2 separate regions of the Homo sapiens genome follow, and region 1 is linked to region 2. Evidence: fine-mapped expression QTL. Tissue or cell type: whole blood. Region 2 holds a variant in brackets; the other region holds the start of a gene. All regions are shown on one strand. Distances are from middle to middle.

Region 1 (2,500 bases), 33 kb before region 2:
TGCAATTTTAACTCTCGTATCTTCTGATTTCTACGCCAATGCTCTTATCCTTAAAGCCACATTTGTCCCTTGGCTGAAGAGTTGTGAAAGATCAGGAGACTTTTAGAACCTATCCATAACCAGTGTTGGCATTTGCAATATCCATGATTGAAACAAAATATTTTCAAACCAACTACTTTTACTAAACATGCAATGTGCTGGCCACTTCAACAGATAACCGGGCTTTGAGGAGGTATAGGTGTATTTCAAGAAATGTACTATCTAGCTAGGAAGAGAGAAGGATAGGTAAGACAACAGCAATGGGGGAAAAACCACAATAATATATGACGAATGTTAGATGTGACTTTAAGAGTTCAGGGGGCGGCGGGGGTGTGGGGGCGGAGCCGGGCGCGGTGGCTCAAGCCTGTGATCCCAGCACTTTGGGAGGCCGGGGCGGGCGGATCACAAGGTCAGGAGATCGAGACCATCCTGGCTAACACGGTGAAACCCCGTCTCTACTAAACAAAATACAAAAAATTAGCCGGGCGTGATGGCGGGCGCCTGTAGTCCCAGCTACTCGGGAGGCTAAGGCAGTAGAATGGCGTGAACCCGGTAGGCGGAGGTTGCAGTGAGCCGAGATCTTGCCATTGCACTGCAGCCTGGGCGACAGAGCGAGACTCCGTCTCAAAAAAAAAAAAAAAAAAAAAAGAGTTCAGAGGAGGGTAACGGAGGGAAATCGGAGGCTGTTTCAGAAGGTGCCCAGCAACAAGTGGGACTTAAGCCGGACTCCTGCAACATCCGAGGTGCGCACGCTGGCCCAGGATCCTAACAAATTGCTAGTCGGTGGCTATGAGTCTTAGATTATCAGGGACTCTCCGGGCTCTGCGGACACGCAGAACGCAGGCGCCACGCAAGCCGGCCCCGCCCTTTCACCCCTCCCCGCGCTCCCGGGCCCCGGGCGCGCCGCCTGGAACCCTCCCGGTCCTGGCTGGGGGCGGGCGAACGAGGCCCCACCTCTGCCGGGAGCGGGACGAGCGCGCAGGCGCAGTCTCCCCAGGTTGTAGACGCTGCGGCCCGGCCCGGCGGGGTGAGTTGAGAACGCGGCGCTTTGGTCGCAGCGGCGGTATGGTCGCCGCAGTTTCTCGGTCTTCGCTTCGGCGACCTTGACCCCCTTGTGGGTGGGCGAGGCTGGAAGAGAGGCTCCCCACCCCACTCGGCTTCCTGATCCCTGGGGGCGCCGGGCGGTCACCGAGGGCCGTGTGAGCGCCGCTCTGCCGGCTCCGGGTCCATGCGGCTGCGGGAGAAGCCCTGGGCGTCGGGGCTGGCCTGGGAGGGGCCCGAGTCCCCTGGTGACCTGGGCGCGCGGCGGCCCCACACCTTTCCGTCCGCCTCATCGCGGCGCATTTCTCTTCACATCCTCGGGGTGTGTGTGTGTTGGTGACCGGAGGAAGCCTGTCTAATGACTTTTCTGGAAGCGTCGTGTATTAGGAGCTCCGGGGCCGGACTGCTTGGGTCCGCATCTCCATCCACCGCTTACTGGCTTTGGGACCTCTGCAAGTCACTTCACTTCTCTTTCTCAGTTTCAAGTGTAAAATGCGGAAAATAATAGCAACTTATCTCCTAAGGTGGTTGTGAGGGTTGCGTGGGTTAATATTTGTGAAGTGCTTAGAACTGAGCGTGATACACAGCAAAACCATAAGTGCTGCTCATCTTTTTGAGCTTGGTATATAAAAGGAGATAGTGACCTTTTCTTCTCTTTCCAACCCCCATAAATAATTGCCCAAGAGTAGGAAAAAAGGATTTTTTTTTCTTAAGGATATGGGCTTTTTGCATAGCCTGTTTAAAAACAAAGCTTTCTAAACAACTTAGTTGCACATCCTACTTTAGAGAAAAGACAAGTGTTAAGTGATGGTGACTTGAAAACTGTAAAGTTTATTGTTTGGAAAACCGCATGAGAAAAATGGCCAGAACATATTTGTGCTAAAAAGAGTTAACATAGCAGGCCTTAAGACTGCTATCCTTAGAAAGGACTGCTTGCAATGTTGGTGCTTGTTTGGCATCTGGGAACTTAGATTTTTGGGTTTGTGCTGAACAGTATGTTTTATGCCGAAATTACCAGCTTCTGTAAAAATCCGGGACACCAAGTCTTTAATGGGCTTCCCTGCGCGGAAACTGCTGCATTTTCACTGATGGAGGAAGGATGTGTTTTGTTTGACCCCTCTTGGGAGGGAGACCGCATAAGGAGCCTACACGTGATTCCTCCAGACTCCGCTTGTGTCTTTTTCTATTATGATGAGCCTTTATATCCATACTGCATTGTGTAATAAATGTCAGCCATGAATTCAACTATATGTTGAGTCCCGTGCATCCTATCAAAGCTCTAAATGTGGGGGAGATCACGGAGATCCTCAGCCACAGTTTTGTAAATTTGTATAAAGGTAAGGGATATAAGTGCCGTTTTTTTACGAGGATATATTTCCTAGTGGTACTGGGCTTTTAGTGTAACCATCACCTGAATAAT
Region 2 (2,766 bases):
GGATAGTTGTTATAAAATACATATGTAACAGTTATTTCATGAATATAGGAATAGGACAATATATTCAATAGTTATCTTGGAAGATAACATTCTTTTTTTTTTTTTTTTTTTGAGACGGAGTCTCGCTCTGTCGCCCAGGCCGGACTGCGGACTGCAGTGGCGCAATCTCGGCTCACTGCAAGCTCCACTTCCCGGGTTCACGCCATTCTCCTGCCTCAGCCTCCCGAGTAGCTGGGACTACAGGCGCCCGCCACCGCGCCTGGCTAATTTTTTGTATTTTTAGTAGAGACAGGGTTTCACCTTGTTAGCCAGGATGGTCTCGATCTCCTGACCTCATGATCCACCCGCCTCGGCCTCCCAAAGTGCTGGGATTACAGGCGTGAGCCACCGCGCCCGGCCGGAAGATAACATTCTTTAATGTCCCAAGTTTATATTTGGGATCTGCTTTCTATTCCTTGTCCTTTAGGAGAAAGTGTTATTGGTGGGGATAGTACTTTAGAAACCAGATTTCGAGGGGAAAAAAATTCTAGAATTAAATGGGTTAATCCTTCACCCAATGTTAGCTGCTTTTGTCAAGCTTTATGTCTCTCCCCTTTAAAAGAGGGAGATGTTATGCTGATTTTGTTACATGATTCCACATTATTACTTTACTAGTAAAATATTTGGGGAAAAGAAAGGTGTATAATCCTACATTATACACAAATAATCATACATTATTTACTAGCAAATAATGTATGATTATTCGTGGAGTGGTACAAACATTAAGTAGATTAGTGATTTTATTTATAGGAGAGTGCATTAAAGGACAGTGACAAGCAACTAAAGATTGGTGATATCATTTGATCTAATAGTTTTATTAAGCAAAGGGCAGAGGATATGAAAATACCTGTGTTTTTCAAGGCAGGTATTCTGTTTTCCATTTTTATATATTTTATTTATGAAATAATAAAGTTTCTTAATACAATTGAGGCAATTTAGTTGGTGTTATTTAAGCAGAGTGTAACTCACAGATTTTTAATATGTTATTTTTAAATTGTACATTTCTGACATAGAGTTGATCATGTTTTTAAAGGACCCATTGGTGGTGGAACTTTCAAGGCCTGGACCACTGACCTCAGCCTTGTTCCTGTTTCTTCACAGCATGAAGGAGACTGAAAAAGGACCACTTTCTCCTAAAGTTCTTTTTAATCAGCTTTGTCAGAAG[T/C]GGGTGCATCTACATTTAATATAAATAATTATGAGTTACAAAATACTAATGTATTCATCATTTAACATGAATAGTCGTTTTTACTGTAACTTTGCTCTTATTGCCCTGACTATGAAGAGAACTAAAATTTGTTACAGCTCTATGCTTTATGAAAATTATATCTCAGTCCTCAGAAGAAGCAGCTTATCCTCATATATAAGGAAATGGAGACACAGAAATTAAATGGCTCACCTAGTCTGAGTGAAAAGCTGAGAATCAAATGGAGATCTGTCCTGACTTGGATGCCTATGTTGTAATACCATAAAGTGAGAAAACCATAGAGTTGTAAAATCTAGAAAGTACCGTAAGATAACATCTAATCTAGCTTTCTTATTTTAAAAGATGAGCTGTGAGGCAAATAGAGTTTAAGTGAATTTCTCAAGGTATTACAGTATGTTTAAAAACCAAATCCTTATGTGCCTGGAAATAAACACATAAAGGATCTGACTTGACTTTAATGCATTCATGTATTCATTTATATAAAAAATTGAGAGCTTGCTTTTTATGAGGTACTTGCTACAATTCAGGGGTACACAACATATATTGCGTCACAAATGCACCCTGTCCTCATGGAACTCACAAGCTAGTCCAGTCCACAATTACTAAAATATGTAGAAGGAAAATTATTTGAATATGAGCTTGTGTTTTTGTATATCTATAGACTTTAAAATCTCATTTTAATTAAAACTAGTAATGAATGCCATGATATTTTAAATATAGTCCAAAATAGAGGGCTTAGTGTATGTTTCATTTGGTTGGCAAATGATGTTTCTTCAAAGCCTGAGGACCAAAAAAACCTGCAAAATTCTCAGAGGCATGAGTGTCTCACAGAGTTAAAAAGTTTTTAGCACAGCCATAATAAAGAATGAAATCATATTCTTTGCGACAACATGGATGCAGCTGGAGGCCATTATTCTAAGTGAATTAATGCAGGAACAGAAAACCAGATACCACATGTTCTCATAAGTGGAAGCTAAACATTGGGTACTCATGGACATAAAGATGGCAACAGTAGAGAGTGGGGATTACTAGAGGTGGGAGAGATTGAGGGAGGAAGGGTTGAAAAACTAACTATTCGGTACTATGCTTAGTACCTGAGTGACGGGATCATTCGTACTCCGGACCTTTGCATCACACAATATACCCAGATAACAAACCTGCACATGTACCCCTTGAATCTAAAATAAAAGTTGAAATTAAAACAAAAAAAGTTACTAGGTCATTGTATGCTTTAGAAATTTGTTTCTGACTTTGCCAGAAATAACTTGTTTTGTATAGTTTTCTTCCTGGTTATAAAGGTTTATTAACATTTTAAAAATTACTATTAAAATAATGGGCACTCATAGATAAAAATTCAAACTCCTCTCTATCTTTACTCCTCAGAAGTAACTATTATCTGATTCTTTCCAAAAGTGATCATACATACACAGACATATGCAAATTTTTTGCAACTTGCTTGATATATTTTATACATCTTTCCATGTTAGCACATGTGTGTATAACTTACTCAGTTTTGTATGAAT

What was found. PIP is the estimated chance that this variant, and not a neighbour inherited with it, causes the effect.
Region 1: USP45 starts here. The variant in region 2 is fine-mapped to the expression of USP45 in whole blood (TOPMed, PIP above 0.99).

What each region holds. Positions count from the first base shown.
Region 1 is chr6:99,513,958-99,516,457 of GRCh38, reverse strand. It overlaps USP45 (ubiquitin specific peptidase 45), which reads left to right and starts at 1,035. Exons shown (of 18, transcript NM_001346022.3): 1 at 1,035-1,066. RefSeq lists silencers at 248-467, 778-1,147, 1,198-1,297 and enhancers at 214-1,119, 1,120-2,027.
Region 2 is chr6:99,481,190-99,483,955 of GRCh38, reverse strand. USP45 (ubiquitin specific peptidase 45) reads left to right here. Exons shown (of 18, transcript NM_001346022.3): 8 at 1,073-1,203. Among named protein-coding and RNA genes, the nearest start is that of USP45, 33 kb to the left of the region's middle. The variant T/C (reference allele first, on the strand shown) is at 1,205.